4 linked regions of the Homo sapiens genome follow. The protein of the gene in region 1 purifies or fractionates together with the protein of each later gene. This does not show direct contact. Each region holds a gene or a part of one and is shown in the gene's direction. Other genes may lie near its edges. The genes, in order: DND1, TRAP1, VCPIP1 and EMB.

The links.
Region 2: the proteins of DND1 (region 1) and TRAP1 purify together in Homo sapiens (affinity purification with mass spectrometry; 3 studies listed by BioGRID and IntAct, with this or other methods). This does not show direct contact.
Region 3: the proteins of DND1 (region 1) and VCPIP1 purify together in Homo sapiens (affinity purification with mass spectrometry; 3 studies listed by BioGRID and IntAct, with this or other methods). This does not show direct contact.
Region 4: the proteins of DND1 (region 1) and EMB purify together in Homo sapiens (affinity purification with mass spectrometry; 3 studies listed by BioGRID and IntAct, with this or other methods). This does not show direct contact.

Annotation. Positions count from the first base shown.
Region 1 is NC_000005.10:140,670,568-140,678,302, reverse strand, and holds DND1 (dead end protein homolog 1), read left to right. Parts: upstream 1-4,726; 5' UTR 4,727-4,760; coding exon 4,761-4,784; intron 4,785-4,914; coding exon 4,915-5,032; intron 5,033-5,396; coding exon 5,397-5,858; intron 5,859-5,957; exon of another isoform or gene 5,958-6,552; coding exon 6,553-7,010; 3' UTR 7,011-7,509; downstream 7,510-7,735. Other genes in the region: HARS1 (histidine--tRNA ligase, cytoplasmic), read left to right, coding at 288-395, 550-648, 883-976, 1,187-1,314, 1,407-1,649, 3,170-3,286, 3,478-3,624, 3,975-4,046.
Region 2 is NC_000016.10:3,686,512-3,693,531, reverse strand, and holds part of TRAP1 (heat shock protein 75 kDa, mitochondrial isoform 1 precursor), read left to right. Parts: intron 1-2,546; coding exon 2,547-2,705; intron 2,706-4,394; coding exon 4,395-4,477; intron 4,478-7,020.
Region 3 is NC_000008.11:66,664,232-66,671,834, reverse strand, and holds the start of VCPIP1 (deubiquitinating protein VCPIP1), read left to right. Parts: upstream 1-4,603; 5' UTR 4,604-4,876; coding exon 4,877-7,586; intron 7,587-7,603. UniProt on the Homo sapiens protein: Deubiquitinating enzyme involved in DNA repair and reassembly of the Golgi apparatus and the endoplasmic reticulum following mitosis. Necessary for VCP-mediated reassembly of Golgi stacks after mitosis.
Region 4 is NC_000005.10:50,438,275-50,445,849, reverse strand, and holds the start of EMB (embigin precursor), read left to right. Parts: upstream 1-4,561; 5' UTR 4,562-4,698; coding exon 4,699-4,810; intron 4,811-7,575. UniProt on the Homo sapiens protein: Plays a role in the outgrowth of motoneurons and in the formation of neuromuscular junctions.

The DNA of each region.
Region 1 (7,735 bases):
TAGGGAAAATGGCTAAGCACTAAAGCCATATAATCACCCCATCCAGTAGGAGGAGTTAAGAAGATGATGAAGTAGAAAATGAAGGAATAGCCCAGTAGATGGAAAGGAAACCAAAACTGGTGAGAAGCCCAAAGATGCCGGGGTTTACCTCTGGGCTGATGATCAGAAAATGAAAGAGAAATTCTATGCTTGAGTGCAACCAGGCCTTCCTAGAGGACAGAGCTCCCAGAGTCCCCCCTTCAGAAAGGTGAATCCCTGAAGACCGCTGGCTAACCCTCTCCCTGCAGGATTTTGACATTGCTGGGAACTTTGATCCCATGATCCCTGATGCAGAGTGCCTGAAGATCATGTGCGAGATCCTGAGTTCACTTCAGATAGGCGACTTCCTGGTCAAGGTCAGAGCTGACAAGGCTGGGAGGGCAAAGTTGGGCCTGGCCTCTCACAAGAGAAGATCCTTGTGCAGAGGGACCAGTAGCCTAAGTGACCATGACTATTGCAGGTCATGTAAGAAAAGAGATTCCCCCCTCACTATGCATTGGTTCCTTGCAGGTAAACGATCGACGCATTCTAGATGGGATGTTTGCTATCTGTGGTGTTTCTGACAGCAAGTTCCGTACCATCTGCTCCTCAGTAGACAAGCTGGACAAGGTAACAACCCAAGTACTTGACTTCTTTTCCCAGATCCCACCCTGCCTTGGGAAATGGAAAACAAGATTGAGAGAGAGAGAGGTGCATGCCTCTATACCCACCAGAGGAAGGTTAGCCCCAGGATGTAGGCTCATGGGCAGCTACTGCTCTAAAACGGTTCCCCGAGGACAGTACACACTTGCTCTGTGGTGCGGAAGCTGCCCAGGGGTCCCTGACTGGTGTCTGTCTGCCTAGGTGTCCTGGGAAGAGGTGAAGAATGAGATGGTGGGAGAGAAGGGCCTTGCACCTGAGGTGGCTGACCGCATTGGGGACTATGTCCAGCAACATGGTGAGGAACAGAACCAAGCCTCCCCAGCAGCCGTCCCACTGCCCTCAGTCCTAAAGTTGAAACTGTTCTGTGTTATGTATGTAGGGGAGTGAGTGTGTCTATGCATATGTACACACACATGCATGGGCGACTAGAGTCCAGGCAAGAAGGTCAACCCTCCTTACCTTTTTTGTTTCCTTGTCAGCCTCACTCACAAGTCTGTCTCCCCAGGTGGGGTATCCCTGGTGGAACAGCTGCTCCAGGATCCTAAACTATCCCAAAACAAGCAGGCCTTGGAGGGCCTGGGAGACCTGAAGTTGCTCTTTGAGTACCTGACCCTATTTGGCATTGATGACAAAGTGAGTCAAGTTGGGGACGGGATCCCTTCTGAGCTCTGGGGCTTCAGGTCCCTGATCTTAATCTGGCACTGACCATTTTCTTATCTCCACAGATCTCCTTTGACCTGAGCCTTGCTCGAGGGCTGGATTACTACACTGGGGTGATCTATGAGGCAGTGCTGCTACAGACCCCAGCCCAGGCAGGGGAAGAGCCCCTGGGTGTGGGCAGTGTGGCTGCTGGAGGACGCTATGATGGGCTAGTGGGCATGTTCGACCCCAAAGGGCGCAAGGTGCCATGTGTGGGGCTCAGCATTGGGGTGGAGCGGATTTTCTCCATCGTGGAACAGAGACTAGAGGTAGGTCCTAGGAGGTAGGTAGAAGATAGTCTGAGCAGGTGGTGGCACCTAAGCTATCTGATCTCCAAGGGAGCAAGTGGTGCTGCTTTGGGCAGGGAGCATCTCACAGAAATGGAGAAAAGATTATTGCTCTTTTTCACAGATTTCTACCCCATTATATGTAAGTTTTATGGATCTTTAATCCATAATCTTTCTGCACTCAATCCTCTGCTCTGGGTCTCTACTTCCTTCAGGGCTGTCACAAACCTGGGCTGGTGTATCCAAGACTTAGATCTTCCTCATGATACGGAATACTTAACATTTTACTGCCTTGTGCCAGGCACTGTGCTTGGTGCTTTTCATGCATTATCAAAATATAATTGTTACTACAGCCCTGTGAGAGTAGCTAATTTTATTAATTGCATTTTCCAGATGAGAACACTGAAGCATTATAGATCAAATAATTTGCTTAAGGCCATGAAACTTGTAAGTGGTAGGGTCAGAATTTGAATCCAGGCAGTCTGACTCCAAAGTCTTGCCACTAACCACACTGCAATACTGTCTCTAAATGGGAAGCATGTGTCTGAGGCCCTGGGATCCCTCAGATGGCTACCGTGACTCTCTAGCACCTAGAGTAACACCAAGGAAGCCTCTTGTAGCCTCAAGCCCTCCTTTGTTGCTGCTGGTCTTAAGTGGCTGGTTGCATTTCATCTTCTGGGAAATGCTCTGGCAACCTCCCCACAGTCCTATGCCTTTTCTCTAGGGTGGAAACCACCCATTTCCCAGTTGAGATCATTTTTCCAGTAGGCATCTTACATTCTAAGAACTATGAAAATAGTTTTCCTGAAAAAGACAAGGGAAGCAGCAGCAGCATTCTCCTTTCCCCACACCCATATACACGCCTGTGCCCTGTAACTGAAGTGTGAGAGGCACAGTGTCATAAATGGGTAGATAGTAAGTGGGGACTAAAACTGTCAAGGGTGATCTAATTGGGGTGGGCTCATAGTAGTACTTCTGTGTGAATGCTTTGGTGGACCCTTAAGGTACTACATGGACCAGCCTGGGCAACATGATGAGACCCTGTCTCTACAGATTAAAAAAAAAAATTTTTTTTTTTTTTTAAATTAGCTGAGTATGGTGGTGTGTGCCTGTAGTCAGGAGGCTGAGGTGGGAGGATCACTTGAGCTTGGGAGGTCGAAGCTGCAGTGATCACACCACGGCACTTCAGCCTGGATGACAGAGACCCTGTCTCAAAAAAAAAAAAAAGGTACTACATGGAGATAAGCTTGAAGTTACTGTAAAAAAGCTACCTTTACTCTTGCCCTAAGTTATTTATTCTGATACGTCCTATGTACAAGTCAGTCAGTTCAGTCCTCATATCTACTAAAAGCTACCTTTATGCCCAAGGTGCTAGATGAGAAGACAGGGCCCCTGCCCTGGTAGAGCTGAGTTGGGCCTGGTCTCAAAATCCCGACTAGAGCCTGCTTTGTTTGCTCCTTGAAGGTGTTAGCCCAGCTCTCTTTTATCTGCCCCTTCCCCAGGCTTTGGAGGAGAAGATACGGACCACGGAGACACAGGTGCTTGTGGCATCTGCACAGAAGAAGCTGCTAGAGGAAAGACTAAAGCTTGTCTCAGAACTGTGGGATGCTGGGATCAAGGTATGGGAGGCAAGCCCCAGGGTGGCAGCAAACTTAGGTGTGCTGGACACAAACTGAATAAAAGCTCACCCATAATGGATCCTGCCATTACTTCTCAAAAGTAGAGCTAAGAACAGGGTGCCAGCTTGGACACCCTCTGTCCCTGAGGACAGCAGAAGCCAGCCTTCATCTTCTGCTCTTGTCCCCTGCAGGCTGAGCTGCTGTACAAGAAGAACCCAAAGCTACTGAACCAGTTACAGTACTGTGAGGAGGCAGGCATCCCACTGGTGGCTATCATCGGCGAGCAGGAACTCAAGGATGGGGTCATCAAGCTCCGTTCAGTGACGAGCAGGGAAGAGGTGAGGGAGGTGGGCAGGAAGGCTAAGGGACAGAGAATGTATGCCATTTTGGCAGGCCCATGCCCATTCAAGACCTGAGAAAAAGCCTGGCATTGATATTAGTACAACTCATAAAAGCCTTGAGGGCTTAACCTGTTACTGTGGTCTTAGTAGGGTGAGATCTCCATCCCTGCATATACCTTATGGTTTGTTGGCTCCCCCAAGAGGCACACTCTAGCCTGAGGTGTTTAATTAGGTTCCTGCTCCCAGCTGAGACAAGCCTGATGCCTAGAGGGCTAGAGGAAACTAGGCACTCGGGGAGCAGTGGAATGGAAGATGCTTATACCACCTTCTTCTCCCATCCTGGCCAGGTGGATGTCCGAAGAGAAGACCTTGTGGAGGAAATCAAAAGGAGAACAGGCCAGCCCCTCTGCATCTGCTGAACTGAACAAACTATCAGAGGAAAGGAAGTGGGACTGGCACTATTTGAGGTTAAGACAAACTGCATATGTACTTCAATTGCTTTGCACTTTTCCGTTTCAGCGGAAGACCTGAAGAGTGGTCAGAACAGAGCCTTTGATTTTTATTATGGTTATTTTATTGATTATTACTGGCAAAAACGGCCAGGTACAACACCTTTTTCATACAAGGCCCAGGAGGCTTAGTCCAGTCTGTGCTCCTGGGCTACAAGGACCCAGCCTGAGATGGTCCCATCTGCAGGGCCCCGCACCAGTTGGAGCAGATGCCTCCCCACCACCAATTGCCAAAGGTCCAATAAAATGCCTCAACCACGGAGTCTGCGTGTGTCAGTGATGCCTAGCCCCGCCTTCCCCAGCAGACCAATGTAGGGATGGAAAAGGGAGAAAAACAGTAAACTTGTGACCCTGAGGTTCTTGTCTCCAGCGTCCACCCTGCGGCTTGGGAGCTCCTCCTCGGGAGGCAGCCCCCGTACATACGCACCCGCGACTTTGCAGCTTTCACCTGAAGGTCTGAGCGAAGCCCGGGCGGCGCACGTGCAGTGGATACCTCCACCCCCCTGGGAGGCGGGGTCGCGCTCAGAGCCAATGAGAGCTTGCGGGGTGGAGGGGTAGGGAAGCTTCCAGAGGCCGGTGGGGAGGAAGTTATAAAGAGGGTACGAGGGGGCCAGCTGGAGAGCCATGCAGTCCAAGCGGGATTGTGAGGTAAGCGGCTGGCGACTTGGGGGCCGGCGAGCCCCGCCGGAGCGGGGGTCGGCTTTAGGGACCCCAGTACCACAGGAGAGGTGGGGGCGCGCTTGGCGATCCGCCATTCCAACCTTCCTTTCCCTCTCAGCTGTGGTGTGAGAGGGTGAATCCAGAGAACAAGGCGGCGCTGGAGGCGTGGGTCAGGGAGACAGGCATCCGCCTGGTGCAGGTGAACGGGCAGAGGAAGTATGGCGGGCCACCCCCAGGTACGGTAGTCCCAGCCCCTCCGCCTGTCCGGCTACACCAGCCCCCTTTGGGGGAGGGGCTGCTCCGAGCCTTCACTGTCAGAAACTGCGAACTACCCGGATTTATACCCCCCAGCAAAGGAGGAACTGTGGCTCCACGTCCACCCGCCCCGTCGAGGGAGGGGGCCAATCTCAAGGTGTACCTACTCTGTGCCAGCCCCCTTGTTAGCGCAGTCACCTAATTATGCCAACCACCCAGGGTACGGGTGTAAACCCATTTCACAGACCTTTGTTCACATCGCCTCCCACCCCCGCGCGCTGGGTCCGTGGGCTCAGAATTCGAAAGCGTCGCCTGACGGTGGCCTTGCATACCCTCTTCCCACAGGCTGGGTGGGCAGCCCGCCGCCAGCTGGGTCAGAGGTGTTCATCGGGCGGCTGCCTCAGGACGTGTACGAGCACCAGCTTATCCCGCTGTTCCAGCGCGTGGGCCGCCTCTACGAGTTCCGCCTGATGATGACCTTCAGCGGCCTGAACCGCGGCTTCGCCTATGCCCGCTACAGCTCGAGGCGCGGCGCGCAGGCCGCCATCGCCACGCTGCACAACCATCCGCTGCGGCCGTCCTGCCCGCTGCTCGTGTGCCGCAGCACCGAGAAGTGTGAGCTGAGCGTTGACGGCCTGCCGCCGAATCTGACCCGCAGCGCGCTGCTGCTCGCGCTGCAGCCGCTGGGTCCCGGCTTGCAGGAGGCGCGGCTGCTGCCCAGCCCCGGACCGGCGCCCGGGCAGATCGCTCTGCTCAAATTCAGCTCGCACCGGGCCGCTGCCATGGCCAAAAAGGCCCTGGTGGAAGGTAGGCTGGGGCGGGGGTGCTGGTTGGGGCCAAACGCGTTCTGCCCGGCACTTTATACTGAGCATAGCTGTTAAAGTTACAAGATCTTAGAGTCAAACATGCCAGAATTTGCAACCTTTTACTATTTGATCTCAGATTTTTAAAACTTCCAATGGTGCTACCACCACCGCTTACCTAAATTTGTGACACTTCCCGAGCATTACCTCCTGACTTAATTCTCAACCTTCCCCCACCCCCACACCGCAAAATAGGCACAGGACCCTCAAGCTATGAGGAAACTGTTAGAGAAATTGATTTGCTCAAGGGAATCCAACTGAGCTTTTTACTACTATAGAATCTGTTTCCTCAGACTGTTATGAGAATTAAGTAACATAATGGGTGTACGGTACTTAGCACACTGACTGACTTACAGCAAGTTTTCCCAGTAAAGATTAGCCATTATGATGGTTATGAGGCAGACAAAGCCTGCAATTAACCAGTACTTCTCCAAGGAAACTTGTAAGGTAGCAGTGTGTTATACTCCCTTTGCAAATAATGGAGGCTGAAGGCTTCATTGTCTTTTCTTACCCATGGTCACACTACCAGGAAATGGGAAGGCTACAAATAACAGGACTGTGTAGCTCCAAAGGGCTCACCACCTGGAGGCTTGGGCCCAGGGTTTAGACCTGCCCTTGTCTTTGCATTTTTCCTACAGGGCAGTCACACCTCTGTGGAGAGCAGGTGGCTGTGGAGTGGCTCAAGCCAGACCTGAAGCAGCGACTTCGCCAGCAGCTTGTGGGTCCCTTCTTGCGGTCCCCACAGCCAGAGGGCAGCCAGTTGGCTTTGGCAAGGGACAAGTTAGGGTTCCAAGGGGCTCGGGCTACCCTGCAGTTGCTGTGCCAACGAATGAAGCTGGGCAGCCCTGTGTTCCTCACCAAGTGTTTGGGCATAGGACCTGCTGGCTGGCACCGCTTCTGGTACCAGGTGGTGATTCCTGGGCATCCGGTGCCCTTCAGCGGCCTCATCTGGGTTGTGCTGACCCTAGATGGCCGGGATGGGCATGAGGTGGCCAAGGATGCTGTGTCTGTACGGCTGCTGCAGGCACTCAGTGAGTCTGGGGCCAACCTCCTGTGGTCTGCTGGGGCTGAGGCAGGTACCATGGTTAAACAGTGACTCCATTCTTTCTCCACAGGCACCCTGAATGGGCATGCAGAGCCTGTGTCAGGCCCCATCCCAGCAGGCCTGGGTGGCCACTTTCTGACCCCCAAAGGTGGGGAGGGGCATGGGCCCAGGCCCATCAGCCTCCCTGCTGGGACAGGGACCTATGGCACCTGGGGGCAGCTTAGGTTTGGGTTAAGTTGTGGTGAGGGGCCTTGCCCTCCCGCTCCCAGCCCAGGGTCCAACCTGACCCAGTGATCTTCCATGGCCGTTCCTTGTCCCACCCCCACCCGATCATACCTTCCCCCCTCTGCCACAGCTTAGCATGAATCTTCTTTATTGTCCTGATTTGTCCTCTTTGTTGGTTTTTATTTGTGGGGAAGGGCAGCTGAGCCAAAGGGGTCAGAAATTCTGCCCTTTGCCTCCACCACATGGCATTCTGGTTTTGGTTTCTGTATAGTTTTGGGTCTTTCTATGCTGGTTGTATTTATATTAAACCCCTGGTTAGTATATACTTGTGTCTGTGCTGTCTTGCCCTAGCTTAGAGTTTGTTTACACTGGTAGAGTGAATAGCTGCTACGGGGCAAGTACTTCCTCACATCAGTGCTTTGAGTGCATCTTCTTGTGTTGCACTGTAGGGTATTATAAATTCATATCCAGGCCGGGTGTGTTGGCTTTTGCCTGTAATCCCAGCACTTTGGGAGGCTGAGGCGGGTGGATCACCTGAGGTCAGGAGTTCG
Region 2 (7,020 bases), on another chromosome or scaffold:
CTGTGCCCCCAGGGCTGGCTGTGCTTTGGAAGGAGGCACAGAGACTTCAGCACCCTGGTTTGATGTAGACTGTTCGCGAACTCCTCTAATGCCAAATACCATTTAATTCCAGAAGAAATGTCCCGGGATTTTTTTTTTTTTTTTAACTGTACGAATAAAGTGAACAATGCAATTACATGGGCCCAAATAACTGGATGTTTACATGGTTTGGAATTTGAATACTTTCTGAATTGTGGTAGATGTTTTTAAGGTATCTGCATAGAGATAAAGACAGGCTAGGGTTGGCCGGGCATGGTGGCTCACGCCTGTAATCCCAGCACTTTGGGAGGCCTAGGTGGGTGGATCACCTGAGGTCAATAGTTCGAGAGCAGCCTGACCAATAAGGTGAAACCTCGTCTCTACTAAAAATACAAAAATTAGGCATGGTGGCTGGTGCCTGTAGTCCCAGCTACTTTGGAGGCTGAGACAGGAGAATCGCTTGAACCCAGAAGATGGAGGTTGCAGTGAGCCGAGATCACTGCACTCCAGCCTGGGCGACAGAGCGAGACTCCATCTCAAAAAAAAACAAAAACAAAAGGCCAGGTTTGTGCTGTTTGTAAGTCCAGGAATAAGCCTAAAGAATAGGCAAGTTTTGGCTGGGCACGGTGGCTCATGCCTGTAATCCTAGCACTTTGGGAGGCTGAGGTGGGCAGATCGCCTGAGGTCAAGAGTTCGAGACCAGCCTGGCCAACATGGTGAAACCCTGTCTCTACTAAAACTACAAAAATTAGCTGGGTGTGGTGGCAGGCGCCTGTAAACCCAGCTACTCGGGAGGCTGAGGCAGGAGAATCGCTTGAACCCGGGAGGTGGAGGTTGCAATGAGCCGAGATTGCACCATTGCACTGCAGCCTGGGCAACAAGAGTGAGACTTCATCTCAAAAAAAAAAAAAAAAAAAAGGCAAGTTTTTGTACCTTTTAGGAGTATGAAAGTTGATATGTTAATTTTTTTTTTTTTTTGAGACAGAATGTTGCTCTGTCACCCAGCCTGTAGTGCAGCGGCACGATCTCGGCTCACTGCAACCTCCACTTCCCAAGTTCAAGCCATTCCCCTGCCTCAGTCTCCCGAGTAGCTGGGATTACAGGTGCCTGCCACCATGCCCGGCTAACTTTTGTATTTTTAGTACAGATGGGGTTTCTCCATGTTGGCCAGGCTGGTCTCGAACTCCTGACCTCATGTGATCCGCCTACCTCAGCCTCCCAAAGTGCTGGGTTTACGGGCGTGAGCCACCGCACCCCTGGCTGATATGCTGATTTTTAAAACCTTGATTCCTGGATATTCTGTTGTCTTTCCTTTCTACTTGTTACAAATTTGTGAAGAACAGGAGAGGCTCCCAGTTAGATGCGGTTCATTTAGGCTTAGACTTTGACACGGCGTGGCTGGCTGGCCACATATCCTTGACACCATCACGTATTGCAAATCTACTGACCAAGGCAGGGTCCTGGTATGTGGTCCCTGGGGTCAGTGGGTGTTGGTGTTGGGTCGGTCCAGTCCTGTGTTGGAGTGAAAGTGTCTGGTTTCTGGGCCTGCGTCGGTGAACTGCGTGCGGCTGGGGACACATTGGCTGCTTTCCTCCCTCGCTGGGCTCTGCCGGCAACTTTCTCAGCCCACTGGACTGAGCAGGAAGTTACAGAAGACAAGTCTCCTTCTTAGTTAGAAGGTAGAACCCATCGTCAGCTGTTTTTCAGTTTTTAAAGTACACAAATTTTTTTTAAAAAATCTGTTTTGGATGAAAAAGCAATGGGAAAGAATCAACTTTTAGAAGATGAGACAGTTTCAGAATATTAACATTTAAATATTTGGATCCCTTTTGGGAGGATTTTTTTTTTGCTTGACTGTCAAGAGCAAAGAAGTGTGGCCCATCGGGGGCTTCTGCAGGGGCTGCGAGGGTCGAGACAGGTTTCAGTTTGGTAGGTTGATGCGAGGTGTCACCCGTGAGGCGAATGTGGGAAGTGCTGTCAGCAGGCATCTGCCAGCTGGGCATGGTGGCTCACGCCTGTCATCCCAGCTCTTTGTAAGGCCAAGGCGGGAAGATGGTTTCAGCCCAGGAGTTCGAGACCAGTCTTGGCAACATAGCAAAACCCCATTTCTACAAAAAATTTTTTAAAAAATTATGGGGGCATGGTGGTCTGTGCCTGTGGTCCCAGCTACTCGTGAGGCGGAGGCAGGAGCATTGCCTGAGTCCAGGAGGTTGGGGCTGCAGTGAGCTGTGATCGCAGTGACAGAGCGAGACCCCCTCTGAAAAGAAGGCAGCAGCCCACCCCCTCCAGTTTCGCTTCTGCGGTTCTGAGAAGACACAGTATCTTACACTGATGACATCTGTGAGGGCTCCTTGCCAAAACCACACCCTGACACTGTGGCATTTGGTCCTGTGGATTTCTCTTTCAGCAACAGCCCGACTTAGAGATGTCCACGCTAGCTTCTGCTAGACACCCTTGATGGGACGAATTACCATATTGTTTCTCGTGTCTTCCTAATTCTCATTCTTTCTGCATATTTGTCTTTTCAGGAAAACCAATTCTGTGTCCTCGGAGGACCACAGCCCAGTTGGGCCCCAGGCGAAACCCAGCCTGGAGCTTGCAGGCAGGACGACTGTTCAGCACGCAGACCGCCGAGGACAAGGAGGAACCCCTGCACTCGATTATCAGCAGCACAGAGAGCGTGCAGGGTAGCCTTGGCTCGTGCTTTGGTCTGGGAGGGCTTTTTGGTTCACTGCTGTGCGTAAAGGGGCATTTTCAGGGTGGAGGCAGTGATTGGTAGAGCCACCGCCTTAGGTGTGAAATCAGAAGGTCTTGGCTGTAGGGAGTGCTGCGCCCTCCATTTCTGTCCCAGCGAGGGACTTCTGCCAGTGTCGGGTGTGTCTTGCCCCCTCTGGTGGCCACCCGTGAGTTTGCCGTCCGGCACCTCCCCTGAGTGGTGATTCATGGCACATCTGCTAATAATCATGGAAGCGGGAGGGGAAACTCAGCATTGGCCCAGTCTGCGCAGGACCGAATTCTGGAGCTGTCTTTTCATTCCCTCTGAAGTATAAAAAAGCAGTCTTTGGAGCCAGTCCTGAAGTGGCTCCATTTCTGGCTTTTAAGTGGGTCGACAAGAGTAGAATCTTTGAAGTTAAAAAGAGAAGTGAGGTTTTCTTGTTATTTTGATTTCTAACTAATTAATTTGGAAACCGCTTTTTTGAAGAATATAGTCCAGGCACAGTGGCTCACACTTGTAATCCCAGCACTTTGGGAGGCCGAGGCAGGAGGATTGCTTGAGGCCAAGTGGTCGAGACCAACCTGGGCAAGATAGACCCTTTCTCTACAGAAAAAAATTAAAAAGTTAGCCAGGCATGGTAGCACACACCAGTGGTTCCAGGTACTTGAGAGGCTGAGGCAGGAGAATCGGTTGAGCCCAGGAAGTTGAGGCTGCAGTGAGCACGATCCTGCCACTGCATAGCAGCCTGGGCAACAGAGCCAGATCCTGCCTCTAAAAAAAAAAGAAAGAACATATAATCTGGTTCTTAGAGGCAGTCCAGTTCTCGTAACCATGCACATTGGGAAACCAGGCTCAGCATTCCCTCGACATAGCCCGAGGCATGTCTGGCCTCAGCAGTGGGAGGATTTGTCCTGCCCTGAGACCTCCTTTCTGAGAGACTTTTTGTTTTGTTTTGTTTTGAGACAGGGTCTTTCTCTGTCACCCAGGCCGAGTGCTGTAGTGCAATCATGGCTCACTGAAGCCTCGACCTCCCTGGCTCAAGTGATCCTCCCACCTCAGCCCCCTGAGTCACTGGGACCACAAGTGTGTGCCACCACCGTCAGCTACTTTGTGTATTTTTTGTAGAGATGGCGGGATCCCTCTGTGTTGCCCAGGCTGGTCTTGAGCTCCTGGGCTTAAGTGATTCTCCTGCCTTGGCCTCCCAAAGTGCTGGGATTACAGGCATGAGCCATGGTGCCCAGCCAGACTTTGTTTCTGTCTGCTTCTTTCTTTTTGTTCATGATCTTAAATGTGTGGGAGGCCGAGGCGGGCCAATCATGAGGTCAGGAGATCGAGGCTATCCTGGCTAACATGGTAAAACCCCGTCTCTACTAAAACTACAAAAAATTAGCCGGGCGTGGTGGCAGGCACCTGTAGTCCCAGCTACTCGGGAGGCTGAGGCAAGAGAATGGCGTGAACCCGGGAGGCAGAGCTTGCAGTGAGCCGAGATCGTGCCACTGTACTCCAGCCTGGGTGACAGAGCGAGACTCCGTCTCAAAAAAAAAAAAAAAAAAAAGTTTAAAACTCATAAACTTAAGCTTTCTTTGGAATGTGACGTAGCGTATTCTTGCACAAAAATAGAAGTTAAACTTTGTTGGTTGTGTCTGTGTTTCATTACTAGGTTCCACTTCCAAACATGAGTTCCAGGCCGAGACAAAGAAGCTTTTGGACATTGTTGCCCGGTCCCTGTACTCAGAAAAAGAGGTGCGTTCCCTGCTAACCATGCCCGATGCTAGCAAAGTTTCTTTTCACAAAGCTGGTTTTTATGCCATTCTGGAGAATTGCCAGATAATATATTAGCTGTGAGAAAGCATTAAACTTTGGACAGGTCCTCATCTTAAGCTACCAGTGAGAGGAGTTTTACCAGAATCTGTTTTGGTTTCCTGGATAAGTGTATCCAGATGGTTCTTTGGGCTGGATCAACTCTGGGAATTAATTGAATTTTGCCAATAATTTTAAAAGTTCCCGAAATACAGGCCTGGTGTGGTGGCTCATGCCTGGGAACTCAGTGCTTTGGGAGGTCGAGGCAGGAGGATCACTTGAGCCCAGGAGTTTGAGACCAGCCTGGTCAACACAGCAAGACTCCGTCTCTACAAAAAATTTAAAAAATTAGCCAGCTATGGGGGCACTGACCTGTGGTCCCAGCTACTCAGGAGGCTGGGGTGGGAGGATGACTTGAGCCTGGCAGACTTTGGGGCTGCAGTGAGCCATGATTGTGTTACTACACTGACCTGCACAACAGAGTAAGACCCTCTCTCCAAAAAAAAAGTCCCCCAAATCCTAGCGTGCAGCTCTGCTGAATTCCGTCTCTGTGGAGCTTTGGATACGCTCTGAGGCCCCTTTGCCTGGTGGGACTACCTGCAGGTCTTGGCGGCTTTGGCTGCCGGAGGAAGAAGGTTCCCCAGTCCTGTGTGTATGGAGCAGGGAGGAGTTACTGAGGAAATTAAAACGCATTTGGGGCCAGGTGCGGTGACCCACACCTGTAATCCCGGCACTTTAGGAGGCCAAGGTAGGAGGATTGTGTGAGTCCAGGAGTCTGAGACCAGCCTAGGCAACGTGAAGAGACCCCATCTCTATTAAAAAAAACCCCGCAAAACTCATTTGGGGTGACAGGACAAGGAAAAAGAAAGATGAAGGCCACCATCGTTGACATGCTGATTATTGCTGGAAGGCAAAGGAGAGTCCTGAAGAAAGTTTGTAAAGCAGCAGATTTCAAAGCTCAGAGGGCCTTCTAGGAGCTGTTTCCGGGTTTCGTACTGATGAGTGCTGCATTCCTGACTCCCAGTGACCTCCAGCTTCCGCCCAGATCAGCCACCGCTTCCTCTTCACCTATGTGCTCTTGCGGACTTAATTTTTCTATTTTTAATTGTGTGGGTTTTTGTTTTTTTTTTTTTTGGTTTTTTAATTTTTTGGAACAGGGTCTGGGTCTGACGCCCAGGCTGGAGTGCAGTGGTATGATCTCGGCTCGCTGCAACCTCCGCCTCCTGAGCTCAAGCCATCCTTCCTCCTCAGCCTCTGGCTGATATTTGTATTTTTTTGTAGAGACGGAGTTTTGCCGTGTTGCCCAGGCTGGTCTTGAACTCCTGGGCTGAGGTGATCTGCCTGTTTCAGCCTCCCAAAGTGCTGAGATCACAGGTGTGAGCCACCACACCCGGCCTCTCTCACTGATTTTAAATGGAAGGTCTGTTTGAGGTCAGTGTGCTTTTCAGCTCCTGAGGGACAGCTGGGCCCTGAGGCCTGTTTTTCTCCGGGTGTGGTAGACCTGGTGTTTGGTGGTCCCCACTAGATGAGATGAAGCTAGGGAACCTGTTTTTGTGGAGTAGGAGTGTATTAGTCCATTTTCACGTTGCTGATAAAGACATACCTGAGACTGGGCAATTTACCAAAGAAGGAGCTTTAATTGGACTTACACCTCCATGTGGCTGGGGAAGTCTCACAGTCATGGTGGAAGGCAAGGAGGAACAAGTCCCGTCTTACATGGATGACAGCAGGCAAAGAGAGAATGAGCAAGACACAAAAGCAGAAACCCCAAAAAACTGTCAGATCTCATGAGACTTACTCACTACCACGAGAACAGTACTGGGGAAACGGCCCCCATGATTCACTTATCTCCCACCAGGTCCTTCCCACAACACGTGGGAATTATGGGAGTACAATTCAAGGTGAGATTTTCGTGGGGACACAGCCAAACCATATCAAGGAGAAATGGATGTTTGAGTGATATGCCGTCATCCCTGTGCAGGAGTTGGGAAAGAAATTGTTCCTCGCAGGCCTCTTTTGTTTGTTTTTTTGAGACAGAGTCTCTCTCTGTCGGGGCTGGAGTGCAGTGGTGCCATCTCGGCTCACTGCAACCTCCGCCTTGTGGGTTGAAGCGATTCTCCTGCCTCAGCCTCCTGAGTAGCTGGGATTACAGGTGTGTTCCATCACGCCCAGCTAATTTTAATATTTTTAGTAGAGACTGGGTTTTGCCATGTTGGCCATGCTGGTCTTGAGCTCCTGACCTCAAGTGATCCACCTGCTTCAGCCTCCCAAAGTGCCTGGATTACAAGCATGAGCCCCCAACCCCAGCCAGAGGGCTCTTCTTAAAGTTATAATTAACAGATGGACACGTAACTTCAGGCTTGATTAAAAATCCTGAAAAGGGCCAGGCACCGTGGCTCACGTCTGTAATCCCAACACTTTGGGAGGCGGAGGCACAACGATCACTTGAGCCTGGGAGATCAAGACCAGCCTGGGCAACATAGCGA
Region 3 (7,603 bases), on another chromosome or scaffold:
TGCACATTAAAGCTTGAGGACTACTGTGCGAAGGAATGACTTGCAGCTCTGTACTCGGTCATTTGTCTCAAGGGGCCCTGGTGTAAGGTCTTAAAGAGTGGAATACTGGCCACTGCTCAAACACATTCACATTAGAAAAAAAAAAAGGCCGGGGACGGTGGCTCAAGCCTGTAATCCCAGCACTTAGGGAGGCCGAGGCAGGCAGATCACGAGGTCAGGAGATCAAGACCATCCTGGCTAACACGGTGAAACCCCATCTCTACTAAAAATACACACAAAAAAATTAGCCGGGCGTGGTGGCAGGCACCTGTAGTCCCAGCTACTCGGGAGGCGGAGGCAGGAGAATGGCGCGAACACGGGAGGCGGAGCTTGCAGTGAGCCGAGATCGCGCCACTGCACTCCAGCCTGGGAGACAGAGCGAGACTCCATCTCAAAAAAAATAAAGTTAAACTCCTGCTGACCCAACAAAACTACATCAAGCCAAGTTTGGCTACTGGTCACCAGTTTGTATTGACTTCTTGCCTAATTCTCTCTCAAATCAGTAAGCAGCTGTGATGTAGTGGAAAGAGTGAGTGCTGAACAAGGAAAACCTTGATTTGAAGCCCAGCTCTATTTCATAGCTGGTGGTAATAAAAACGATGTTAACCTTTTAGAGTTAAATCTTATCCGTATAAGGACAATACTGTATCACAGGAGTGTTTTAAAGATTAAGATGATATACTCAAAACACTGCCCTATAATAAATTGCCCTCAATTAAATTTTCATAGCATTTGTGATATTTCCTGTATTATTTTGATTACATGCTTTATTCTACTTATATTTATGAACAATTTAGTTTAGCCTCCCTCTTCTATTAAACTCTAAGCTTCTTTGAGACAGAGATGAAATTTTGCATCCCTTTAAATTCTTATAATACCTACTTCAATAATTAGTCCCTCCCAAATCCACTTTGAGCTTCAGTCGAAGCTTGTGACTGGAAGTCTGACTATACGTGGCACGGGTCTGGAAGAACACAGTCAATTCTTGGTAAAGATGTATAGTTTATATAGGCAGGTATGTGGCCAACTTACAGCAATCCCCAAAGTTATGATTCCCTTCCTTATATATATAAAATATAAAAGATCAAGAACAATGATGGTTGTTCTGTTGGTAAAAGTGGATGACTTCTGCATTTACATTTACCAAGTTTGTTAAAAGCAATATAGGGAGTTTACAAGTGCCATACTAGAAACTATGAAAAAGATGAATTTCTATTTTAACTGAATTTTGGCAATTTAGGTATTAGTGATGCTGGGGTGATGGTGGTAGAAGAGACGTGTATCAGCACAGCTAATGTCAGAGGCCCAGCTTATTCTTTTCATCTGGACTACTAAAAACAAGAACTATTATCTACCCCACAAAAATCCTGTGAAAGTTAATTAGGTAGTTAAGTTAATCTTCATTAGGCAAGATCATGGAATTTGGGAGGAAAAGAGGAAGGAAGCCTGCAGATCTTGCATAAGCAGGAGAGGCTTTCTACACTCCTCCGGTCTTATAAGAAACAGTATGTCCTATTTTTGACCTAACAATTTTTTTTCTTTGTAGGTATCCATGCCTTCTAAGTGCTAGTAATAAAGAATTAATTCACATATTAAACTTGACATGGTTAATTTCATTGCCCCTTTATGTTAGCTTTCTTTCTGAACTTTGAGTGCATCTACAAACTTATTAAATGATCTAGACAAGCCAGAAAAAGGCTTCTCATTTCTTCAGTGGGGTGGGAAGTGATTATTTTGTCATAGTATGGTTCAGAATGACATATTCAAATACAATTTTAAAAATCTACTTCACTATGTATATGTATCATCAATAAGAAAAATTTGGCCTGGTGTTGTTAAGATATAAAAGTACCTGACAGTGTTAGAATTGCAGACTGTTGTCATCTCATGTGCTACAAAGCTTTAATTCAATTATTTGGATTCTGTATGAGAAAAACTTTCACTGCAGGTGTAACATTTTCGTCACAGCATAAAATAATCTCCACTTAAAGGAGATACCCAATTTCTCTACTTATAAAGCATTCAACTGTTAATAAAAAATCAGTGCCAAAACCAATCTGTGTAGTTACCACCAAACTTGTTAGAATAAACAACTTTTCTTGCATGAATTCTCTGAGAAAAACTTTATTGAAAAATACCCCCTCCGGCCGGGCACGGTAGCTTGCGCCTGTAATCCCAGCACTTTGGGAGGCCGAGGCGGGCGGATCACCTGAGGTCAGGAGTTCAAGACCTGCCTGACCAACATGGAGAAACCCCGTCTCTACTAAAAATACAAAATTAGCTGGGCGTGGTGGCTCATGCCTGTAATCCCAGCTACTCGGCAGGCTGAGGCAAGAGAATGGTTTGAACCTGGGAGGCGGAGGTTGGGGTGAGCCAAGATGACGCCATTGCACTCCAGCCTGGGCAACAAGAGTGAAACTCTGTCTCAAAAAAAAAAAAAAAAAAAGAAAGAAAAATATCCCAAGATAGGAAAAATCACTTCTCTTGTAATTAAGGTCCATTATGGAGGATTTCTCTTTCAAATATTTATTTTCAAGAAAATTGTAGCAATTAGGTGCACATCAAAACTAATACCCTTTATGGGCCTCTATTTTGCAGATGGTTCATTTCAAAGCATCAAGTTCTACATACATACATACACACACACACACACACACACACACACACACACACACAACCTAATCAGGCGGTTTCCTGGGCAGCTACAGAAGACTCAAATGATCTCATGGACTTCACTAATGTTTCTAGTTGGTGCCAAATGTTTCAGAAATTTTGAGGTAGTCCACTTACCTAAGGTGATACTAAACTTCCAGAAAGCAAGAATTTCCGTAATAAGTGAAAGAGGATGAATGTACAAAAATAATACTAGCTTTCAATTAACATATGAATATTGTTCTGTATGAAGAGGCAGTTTCCTACCCAAGTGAAAAAAGAATAAAGCTGTTGCCTCCTTAACATTAAACATCCCTTCATCACTAAGAGGAGACTCTAAGGCCTAGCAAAAGATTTGAGCCTAACATTTTGGGTTTTTTTTTTTTTTTTGAGACGGAGTCTTGCTCTGTCGCCCAGGCTGGAGTGCAGTGGCGTGATCTCGGCTCACTGCAAGCTCCGCCTCCCGGGTTCACGCCATTCTCCTGCCTCGGCCTCCCAAGTAGCTGGGACTACAGGCGCCCGCCACTACGCCCGGCTAATTTTTTTGTATTTTTAGTAGAGACGGGGTTTCACCATGTTAGCCAGGATGGTCTCGATCTCCTGACTTCGTGATGCATCCGCCTCAGCGTCCCAAAGTGCTGGGACTACAGGCGTGAGCCACCGCGCCCGGCCGGGATTTTTTGGTAAGCAGCAGCGTAAAAATCACTCTCAAGGTTTGAGATTGGGATCCAGCATAACTGGTGACTTGACCTTGGGCAAGTCACTTAATTCCTTTTAGTCTCAGTTTCCCTGATTGTAAATGAAGTCAACACCACCTGGTAAAGGTATTACAGGACTGGTGTGAGGATGAGATGATACATGTGAACATATTATTAAATATGTAAACTATAAGGCAATAGTAAGCAAATGCTAGTTACTATTCTATGTAATACAGGCCTAACCTTTCCTGCCTATGTCCTGATCTGTAAAAAGAAGACAGGTTGAGATCTGAATGTCTATCCACTCACTTATCAGCTGCGTGAACTTTAGCAAGTCATTTCCTTTCTGGGCCTGTTTCCTAAGAAGGTTATTTTTTAAGATCAAATGATATCGTGTTATGCAAATGCTGTCCAGACACATATTAAGAACTTAACACATGATGGCTCTTATTATTCTCTGGGGAGTAGGGTGGTAAAGAGCAAATGAAATTAAACCTAGTTAAGAGAATTTGTATATGCACACAAAACTCTACAGACATCCAAGGTACCGTTATTTGCACTGTAAACTGCCAAAACATGCAGGAAACGAGAAATCAAATGGCGCCTCAGTGATTCGCACTAGAGAGGGGGAGAAGGCAGAGCTTCCGAGAATCAACTGTTTTCCCCCTTATGGCCTCCAGCCTAGATTAGACCATTTATTCAACTTCCCAGCCCCCAATATCCCTGGACATTTATTTACTGTACCTTTTTCACTGAGAGCCTTTCCACTCCCCTCCCCTTCTAGTAGTCGTGAACTTCAGACCCTCGCTTCGACTCCCACTGCCATAACTGTTTTTAACCAAGCTTCCCTGAATCCTCCCCTCCGCCTAAGGAGGAAGTGCAGCTAGACGCACCGCACGGCATCCTAGGAAATGTGGTCTCTCAGACTCTTTGCCTTGGGCTGCAGAGTGGGGAAGACGACGAAGGAGAGCCCAGTAAAACTACAACTACCGGCAGGCAACGCGAGTCACCATCTTTCTTTCGCCCCTTTTCCTGTTGCCGTCCTCTTCCTCCTCTCCTCTAGCGCTGAACCGCTTGGCCTCACGGTACTTGTAGTTCCTTCTGGACTCAAGATCCTAGGGCTTGATGGCCAGCACAGAGGCTGGAAGACTCTAATTCCCAGAGGGCAGAGCGGAAGCTGCGCCTGCGCACACTCAATGAGGGCGTGTATGTCTGTGTCTGAGGGAGAGAGAGCGAGAGTGAGTGAGTGTGAGTGCGGGGTGGGGTGGTGGCCGTTACGTTCGGGGCAACGGCTACGGCAGTGGAGAAGTAAGAAGAGAAACAACGTCCGGCGCTTCCGCCTTCGCTTAGGAGGAGGAAGAGCTGGTAGGGAAAGGAAAGTGCTTCGCCCTGGGCCTGGACTGGACCGAGTCGGGTTGGTGGGGGTCTGGGCTATGAGCTTTTGAGGGTCGCCTGGGACGCGGAGCGAGACACGAGAGCCAGGAGCTATGTCTCAGCCGCCGCCGCCGCCGCCTCCGTTGCCGCCGCCACCTCCTCCCCCTGAGGCTCCACAGACTCCGTCGTCCTTGGCGTCGGCGGCTGCTTCGGGGGGGCTTTTGAAGCGGAGAGACCGGAGAATCCTTTCCGGGAGCTGCCCGGATCCGAAGTGTCAGGCGCGTCTATTTTTCCCGGCCTCCGGTTCTGTCAGCATCGAGTGTACCGAGTGCGGCCAGCGGCACGAGCAGCAACAGCTGCTGGGGGTTGAGGAGGTGACCGACCCGGACGTAGTGCTACACAACCTGCTGCGGAACGCGCTGCTCGGGGTTACGGGGGCACCCAAGAAGAACACGGAACTGGTAAAGGTGATGGGCCTTTCCAACTATCACTGCAAATTGTTGTCGCCCATATTAGCTCGCTATGGAATGGACAAACAGACAGGCCGGGCCAAGCTTCTCCGGGACATGAACCAGGGCGAACTGTTCGATTGCGCCTTACTGGGTGACCGCGCCTTCCTCATAGAACCAGAGCATGTTAACACTGTGGGCTATGGCAAGGACCGCTCCGGAAGCCTCCTGTATTTGCATGACACTCTGGAGGACATTAAGCGGGCCAATAAAAGCCAGGAATGTCTCATTCCAGTGCATGTGGACGGGGATGGACACTGCTTGGTGCATGCTGTGTCTCGGGCTCTAGTAGGCCGAGAGCTCTTCTGGCATGCCTTAAGAGAGAATCTTAAACAGCACTTTCAGCAGCACCTGGCCCGATATCAAGCTCTGTTCCATGACTTCATTGATGCTGCTGAGTGGGAGGACATTATCAATGAGTGTGACCCTCTGTTTGTACCACCTGAGGGTGTTCCCTTGGGCCTGAGGAATATCCACATATTTGGTCTTGCCAATGTGCTACATCGTCCTATTATTCTGTTAGATTCCCTCAGTGGCATGAGAAGCTCTGGTGATTATTCAGCCACCTTTCTACCTGGGCTCATCCCTGCAGAGAAGTGCACTGGGAAAGATGGTCATTTGAACAAACCAATCTGTATTGCATGGAGCAGCTCCGGTAGAAACCATTATATCCCCTTGGTAGGCATAAAAGGGGCTGCTTTGCCCAAACTGCCTATGAATTTGCTTCCTAAAGCATGGGGTGTGCCTCAGGACCTTATTAAAAAGTACATAAAACTTGAAGAGGATGGTGGTTGTGTTATTGGAGGTGACAGAAGTTTGCAAGATAAATACTTACTTAGGCTTGTTGCTGCTATGGAAGAAGTCTTTATGGACAAACATGGTATCCATCCTAGTTTGGTTGCTGATGTCCATCAGTATTTCTACAGAAGGACTGGAGTGATAGGAGTTCAGCCTGAGGAAGTCACAGCAGCTGCTAAAAAAGCAGTAATGGATAATCGCCTTCACAAATGTTTGCTCTGTGGTGCCCTTTCTGAACTTCATGTTCCTCCAGAGTGGTTGGCTCCTGGAGGGAAATTGTATAACCTGGCAAAAAGTACTCATGGACAGCTGAGGACTGACAAAAATTACAGCTTTCCCTTGAACAATTTGGTTTGCTCATATGATTCAGTGAAAGATGTTCTGGTACCAGACTATGGAATGAGTAACCTAACAGCTTGTAATTGGTGCCATGGCACATCTGTGCGAAAGGTCAGAGGAGATGGGTCTATTGTGTATTTGGATGGAGACAGAACTAATTCTAGGTCCACTGGTGGCAAATGTGGTTGTGGATTCAAACACTTTTGGGATGGTAAGGAGTATGACAATCTACCAGAAGCTTTCCCTATTACTTTAGAATGGGGTGGAAGAGTGGTCAGAGAAACAGTATATTGGTTCCAGTATGAAAGTGATTCATCTTTGAATAGTAATGTTTACGATGTTGCAATGAAACTTGTTACCAAGCACTTTCCAGGTGAATTTGGGAGTGAAATCCTAGTTCAGAAAGTTGTCCACACTATATTGCATCAGACTGCCAAAAAGAATCCCGATGATTATACTCCTGTAAATATAGATGGTGCTCACGCCCAAAGAGTTGGAGATGTTCAAGGACAAGAATCAGAGTCTCAGCTCCCAACTAAAATTATTCTTACTGGACAGAAAACAAAAACTTTGCACAAGGAGGAGTTAAACATGAGTAAAACTGAAAGAACTATTCAACAGAATATTACGGAACAGGCTTCTGTAATGCAGAAACGGAAAACAGAGAAGTTAAAACAAGAACAAAAAGGGCAACCCAGGACTGTTTCTCCCAGTACCATTCGTGATGGTCCATCCTCTGCACCTGCTACACCTACCAAGGCTCCCTATTCACCGACAACTTCTAAGGAGAAGAAGATCCGAATCACAACTAATGATGGACGACAGTCCATGGTTACCCTTAAGTCTTCAACAACCTTTTTTGAACTTCAGGAAAGTATAGCCAGAGAATTCAACATTCCTCCATATTTACAGTGTATTCGATACGGGTTTCCTCCTAAAGAGTTAATGCCACCACAGGCAGGAATGGAAAAGGAACCAGTTCCTTTACAGCATGGCGACAGAATTACAATAGAAATTCTAAAAAGTAAAGCTGAAGGTGGTCAGTCTGCTGCAGCACACTCAGCCCACACTGTGAAACAAGAAGATATTGCTGTTACTGGTAAACTGTCATCTAAGGAACTTCAGGAGCAAGCTGAAAAAGAAATGTACTCCTTGTGTCTTTTAGCAACATTAATGGGTAAGATGAATTTAATT
Region 4 (7,575 bases), about 90 Mb from region 1:
ATTGAACCAATTTGTTACAGATAAATAAGTTTATACAACTCTACTTGCCCAAAAAGGAATATGTTTTTAATAGCCAGTCACAGCAGAGGTCAATGCACTTCCTCATTGATGCTTTATAAGCTGCACTGTAACTCTCACGTCAAGTTTCTTACTATTTTTGATTTGAAGTCTTCTGGTTTGTGAACTATTCTTCTGTATGTATAATAAACCTTCATATTCCTTTTTTACTTGACCTGACTTTATTTTTACGGGGTCCTCCATGGCGTTTGGGTTTCTCACAGTGTGGCAGTCTCAGGATAATACTGTAGTACTTTTCACTAGGCAGGTGTCTTCTATGAGCAAGATCTCCAACAGAAAGGAAGTGGAAGCTCTTGTGGTCTGGAACAGAAAGCTCACACAATCTCTCTCTCTCTTTTTTTGTTTTGAGACAGTCTTGCTCTGTTGCCCTGGCTGGAGTGCAGTGGTGCGATGTTGGCTTGCCGCAAGCTCTGCCTCCTGGGTTCAAGCAATTCTCCTGACTTAGCTTCCCAAGTATCTGGGATTACAGGCATGCGCCACCATGCACAGCTAATTTTTTTTTTTTTTTTTTTTTTTTTTGCATTTTTAGTAGAGACGGGGTTTCACCATATTGGCCAGGCTGGTCTCGAGCTCCTGACCTTGTGATCTGCCTGCCTCAGCCTCCCAAAGTGCTGGAATTACAGGCGCGAGCCACCACGCCTGGCCAGCCCACACAGTATCTCTTCAGCAATATTCAGTAGGTTAGGGGAGTCAAAGAGCCCACCCAACTCAAGGGGAGAAAACAAAGGACCCTTATTCCCCCTTTATACGCTTCATGATGAGAGTATCAAAGTGCTTGTTGCAATATTTATTTCACCAAGGAGGAAAAGGTCAATTTGGACCAGAAAGGTCAGAAAAAGTTTCCCCCGTCTGGGTATCTCCAATTCTTCTATCCCTGGTTCACCTCAGAGTATTGCAGTTCTGAGAACCAGTGCATTCTGGATTCATTGTAGAACTTTGATTCTCTACTTGACTGTATGTCAGAATCACCAGAGAGCTTGAAAAATCCTGATACCTGGATCTTTTCCCGCAAAACTCTGGTTCATTTGGCTTGGGATTCAGTGTGGGCATTAAGGAGTTTCATCAGCTCTCCATGTAGCTTTAAATGTGATTTTAAGCTGGTTAAAAACCACAGCTTTAAAATGATATGGCCTAGACAGTGCACTGTTAGGTAAATACTTATTCCATAGGCATCAGGGTTAAGTTGATATGCAGAGAAGATCTCTAAAGAGAAAAAAAAAAAAAAAGGTAGGAAACAAATGAAAGTGGAATAAATGAAGGTGTAAATCAATAAGATGAATGGGGGAGGGGATGTCACTCTACGTATATGGTATAAGTTCTGCTCTTTTAGCTCCACGTAAGCTAAAATTGTGGAATAATGTACAAGACAAAAGTTATGAAGTTAGCATCGAATTTAAGCCAGAATTAAAAATTGTCAGGCACTCTCAGCTTGTTTTCTAGATTCGGTATTGATCTCTGCGAAATTCAGTTTTCTCTTTGCCAAAGGATATTGTGAGGTTTACTGGATATTTTTGACCTAGATGTATAGGCCTACATACTTGGACACAGGTTGTCTGTTAACCTAAGACTTTGAGTCAAATTTTAATAATAAGAATAGTTATAAATGTATAGCCCTATGAGTTAGCATTTTTTTAGTTCCAGCTGAAAAAAGAAAAAAGAATTGTCTAGAACATTTTTCTCTCTTCTGGGTATCCCCAGTACTTCTATCCCTGAGTTGCAATCCACTAATATTATTATTTATTTGATGCTCAATTTGTCCCAGATTTGTCCAGTGGGAACCCCTTTAAATGTCCTTAAAGGTAAAAACTGCCAGCATGTTCTACTGAGATATGGACTAACAATGTCAGACATATGTGGGTGCTTGAATAGTATTTGCTTCAAAAATATTTATTACTAGAAAGCTGCTGTGTTTGGGGTGAGAGGTTAGTAGGGAAGGGGGTTCATAAAGGGAATGCAAAAGCCACGTCCTCTGGAAGTTAAAGGATCATTTTAAATGATTCTACTGCAAACATTTTTCAAAAGATAAACATGACCCATTTCTCCAATTTGTGTCATGTAATAGTAATAATAATGATATTTAAATACTCCCACTGATATGTCCTTTACAAAGATATATTATATGTCTTATTTAATCAAAAAACCTTAAAAGAGTCCCTGTACCTAATTTTATTCCAGGACTCAAACTGTGTCAGCATGTCATTCAGTGCAAATCAGACATTTAGATGCATAGGCTATGCTGTCAGTAGTTCTGAACTTTCATAGACATTTCCAATTAGCTCGGAGAGACAACTGGATATTGTGTTTAAGCACTGTGTTTAGGAAAACAGGCACTGGATGGACCAATGCCAAATTTCCTGCTCTGCTGCTTAACTAAGTATGTGTAATTACTTGGGCAATTACTTAAGCAATTACTTGGGCAATTACTTAAGCCAATCCCCAATTTCTTCGTCTTGAGCCCAGAAGGTCAAGGCTGCAGTGAGCCGTGAATGTGCCTCTGCCCTCCAGCCTGAGCGACAGAGTGAGAATTCCCCAGGAGTGCAGAGGTTCTCAGAACTGCAATACTCTGAGATGAATTTTGAAAGGTGAATCAGGGATAGAAAAAGTTATATAGGGAAGGCAGTCAATAAGCTTGTTTTAAAGGATATGGAGCATTTGAAAAAGTGGAATGTACATAAGGCTGGAAATATCAAATATCTAAATATAGAACAGGAACAGTGATGAAAAGACTTTCAAAATGCTTAGCAAAATGAGAATTATATTTCTTTCTCAACTCTTTTGTTCCAACAGCAAAAGCAACAGTGGGGATCAGCATCAACTTGGGTAAGTAAGTTTTTCTGGTCATAAATAGGCTGATTCAACTGAAAAAAATGTTTCTTTAAGAAGGGTGAATTTGTGTCTAAGGATTTTATGAGACTAACTGGGAAAAGTCAGTCAGAGTTTAGTTTGAGGTGAGAAGTGCTTACTGTTGACACTCTACCTAATTATAGGGAAATGTGTGCAGTTAGTCCTGAGACCAGATGCAGGGTTGAAAGAAAGAGGTGTGATGTAGCAGCCATTGATTAGGCAATTTGGGTTTAGCAAGCCCAGTCAATGCCCTCAGAGGGTCAACAGTGTATAAGATTTAGTCCTTGAAGGCATCTTTTAAAGTTTCATTCAGAAGATTTTAATAATTTTGACCATAATTTTCTGAGAAGAGGCTTTTCTGAGATTTGTCATTCACAGATAAACAGTTGTCTAATTTGTGTGTGTGTGTGTGTACATGTGTGCATGCGTGCATTTGTGCATGTGTGCCTATCTAGCCTCTTTTGAACACAATGGTAGATTGGCACCTGGTAGATAATATTGTTGAATGAATTGTATTATTCATATTATCTCACTGCCAATTTGAAGAATCTACATTCTGTTTCCAAAGTTTTGTGCATATAATACTAAACCAGAAACAGACGTGTTTTAGTAATACGTACCAATTACAAATTAACCATTCCTGCCTGGAATAAACACAGGTTTTGTTAAATAGCTCAATTTTCAAAATTTGTCTCATGTTATTTCCAATCCTTTTTTTTTTAACGCCGATATATTTTGAATTTACGAATGTGAAAGCTGAACTTCAAAAAAATAAAGGGAGAGGAAACAAAGCTCGTGAAAAATTTTAAAAATATCTTTTAATGCGTTATAACATCCTGGAGAGAAATCAAATCAATGTGTTTCAATGTTACAATATAGATTTCTCCTCCCCTCCCGGATAAAGCACTAATTTATTTAATTTGGTTCAGAGCACTGAATATTCCAAGCTACAGCCTTGTGGGTAAGAGCATTATCTTAAAGAGTGTTCGGATTTAACAAAGGTCAATGTCTTGTGCAGTTTACATAGTATCTACTCTCAGTAGCTTTTGCTTCTTGAGCTCTAGGTGGCTCCTCAGAAGCTGTTAGGCTTAACAAACAAAAATAAAGTAAAATCAGACACGGTATGGGGCCTTGGGACTCTAAAACCTTCATCCGGAGAAAATCAGTTAAGCCTTCAGAGACTAGAAGAGAGAATGTGTGTGATTGGTAGGCAAAGCAAAGAAAGATTAACACAAGTTGTCTGGCAGCTGGATAAAACCTTACACCTGCGCAAAAATAAGCCTCCCTCGTAAGAAAGCCCAAAGATGTCCGGGGTCCGGGAGGAGAAAAGTGTTTCTCATCTGTCCCATCAAAGCAAATTAGTGAAACCTGCCTCAGGTGAAGTGCAAAGGCCAGTCTGTAGGCAGAGTTTCGACCTCTCCCCACGAGATTGGCTAGACATCACCTGCCCAAGCTCTCTCCCGACCTGCTAGAGCCGAGAGGGCGGAGGCCGGAGAGGCTGCAGCCGGGAAGTAGCACCGCCACCGCACATCCGGGAACGCCAGCAGCCGGCTGAGGGCTGCATAACTGATGGAGGGCCGGGCGCGGTAAGAGCGTCTCGGGGGAGTGGGGCAAGGCGGCCGGGCCCCTCCCATTCCGCCTTTTCTTCAGCGTCCTACCCGCGGCACTGGCTGCGAGCGCCGGGCCACCTGCGAGTGTGCGCAGGGACTCTGGACACCCGCGGCGGCGAGCTGAGGGAGCAGTCTCCACGAGGACCCAGGCGGACCCTCTGGCGCCATGCGCGCCCTCCCCGGCCTGCTGGAGGCCAGGGCGCGTACGCCCCGGCTGCTCCTCCTCCAGTGCCTTCTCGCTGCCGCGCGCCCAAGCTCGGCGGACGGCAGTGCCCCAGGTGTGATGGGTACAGGGTCCAGGGTAGGGAGGGCGGAGGGCGCGCGAGGCTCGGGTCCCCGCGGGCAGAGGGCATCGCCGGCGCGCCGGGCAAGGGTGGCGGGGAGAGGCGCGGGGATGCTGGTAAGGGCGGGTGGGAGAGTCGGCGGCGGCCTCCCATTAGCTACGTTTGTGTCACCTAAGCTGAACCCTGAAACTGCTGCGGCTCGCGTTCCTGCGCTCTTTGGGGCGAGTCTTGAACGAACAGCGCCCCGCGAGTCGGGCGCGTAGGTAACAGGGCAGAGTCTGGTTTTTCCTAGGAAGAAGGCAGTGGGGTGTGTGGGTGGTTGCAGGGACCAGCTAGCGACTTGGCTTGGGCAAATATGGCATGAATTTTGAAAGCCACATTTCCCCAAGGCCTACTCCCTTTTCTTGATTCGAGAGTAAGGCTCGAGTATCACCTCCTTCCCTCCTCTTGGCAGGTGGGTTGGCTTTGAGGATTTTTTTTTTTTTTTTTTTTTTTTTTTTGAGACGGAGTTTTACTCTTGTTGCCCAGGCTGGAGTGCAATGGCGTGATCTCGGCTCACCGCAACCTCCTCCTCCCGGGTTCAAGCGATTCTCCTCTGTCAGCCTCCAGAGTAGCTGGGATTACAGGCATGCGCCACCACGCCGGGCTAATTTTATATTTTTAGTAGAGACTGGGCTTCTCCACATTGGTCAGTCTGGTCTCGAACTCCCAACCTGAGGTGATCCGCCCGCTTCGGCCTCCCAAAGTGCTGGGATTACAGGCGTGAGCCACCTCACCTTGCCGAGGATGTTTTTTTAGAGCTGAGTAGGGGAAAAAACATCATAACCAACTAGCCAACCAAAGATCCACAACTTACAGGATAACGTGTGTGTATCTTCATTTTACACCGTGGTCTTTGAAAACAAAATGTGTGTGTGCATGTGTGTGTGTGTATGTGTGAGATTTTTGCTTGTTGTTTTATTGTTTAAGACACTTTGACAGAGGGATTACGTGCAAAACATTAACAAAGCCAACACGAAAGTTGCCATTCTACCTTCACCTGTTTATAATTACTTTTCATATTGAAAGGATTCCATCCAACCTATTGCAAGTTTCTGTGTCATAAATGTTACCAGCCAGTAAGGGTAATAAAAGACCACCTCTCAAGCTGGTAAATATTGGCCACCAGTAACTAAAATTGGGACATTATTCTGCAAAAAGTTTTCAAACTCTCATGGGAATTTATTTTCATGGGCTTGTAAGATGTGGAATTTTTGTAACACACCATAGAGAAGGAAGGATAATCAAAAGGTAAGACTATTAATTTTTATAAATGCCTTTTAAAACGTCTAGTTGTTAACAACTTGGACAGAACATCGTGGGTTCCTTCGCAGATTTCCTTGTGCCACATCTCTTTTCCATAATACCACTTATAAAGAATTGTCCAGGCCTGTAATCCCAGCACTTTTGGGCGCTGAGGTGGGAGGATGGCTGGAATCCAGGAGTTCAAGACCACCCCGGGCAACATAGCAAGGTCCCTTCTTTATTAAAAAAAAAAAAAAAAAAATTAAAAGTGCGGTTGTGGTGATGTACACCAGTAGTCCCAGGTGCTTGGGATGCCAAGGCAGAAAGATTGCTTCAGTCCAAAGTTTGAGGCTGCAGTGAGCTATGATGGTGATGGTGCCACTAAGCTCCAGCCTGGGTGACAGTGCAAAACTGTCTCAAAAAAAAAGAAAGAAAAAGAAACAGAATTGTCCAGGACATTTTTCCCCCTTCTGGGTATCTCCAATTCTTCTATCCCTGGTTCACCTCAGAGTATTGCAGTTCTGAGAACCAGTGCATTCTGGATTCATTGTAGAACTTTGATTCTCTACTTGACTGTATGTCAGAATCACCAGAGAGCTTGAAAAATCCTGATACCTGGATCTTTTCCCGCAAAACTCTGGTTCATTTGGCTTGGGATTCAGTGTGGGCATTAAGGAGTTTCATCAGCTCTCCATGTAGCTTTAAATGTGATTTTAAGCTGGTTAAAAACCACAGCTTTAAAATGATATGGCCTAGACAGTGCACTGTTAGGTAAATACTTATTCCATAGGCGTCAGGGTTAAGTTGATATGCAGAGAAGATCTCTAAAGGAAAAAAAAAAAAAAAGGTAGGAAACAAATGAAAGTGGAATAAATGAAGGTGTAAATCAATAAGATGAATGGGGGAGGGGATGTCACTCTATGTATATGGTATAAGTTCTGCTCTTTTAGCTCCACGTAAGCTAAAATTGTGGAATAATGTACAAGACAAAAGTTATGAAGTTAGCATCGAATTTAAGCCAGAATTAAAAATTGTCAGGCACTCTCAGCTTGTTTTCTAGATTCGGTATTGATCTCTGGGAAATTCATTTTTCTCTTTGCCAAAGGATATTGTGAGGTTTACTGGATATTTTTGACCTAGATGTATAGGCCTACATACTTAGACACAGGTTGTCTGTTAACCTAAGACTTTGAGTCAAATTTTAATAATAAGAATAGTTATAAATGTATAGCCCTATGAGTTAGCATTTTTTTAGTTCCAGCTGAAAAAAGAAAAAAGAATTGTCTAGAACATTTTTCTCCTTTCTGGGTATCCCTAATTCTTCTATCCCTGATTCACCTTTCAAAATTCATCTCAGAGTATTGCAGTTCTGAGAACCTCTGCACTCCTGGGGAATTCTCACTCTGTCGCTCAGGCTGGAGGGCAGAGGCACATTCACGGCTCACTGCAGCCTTGACCTTCTGGGCTCAAGATGA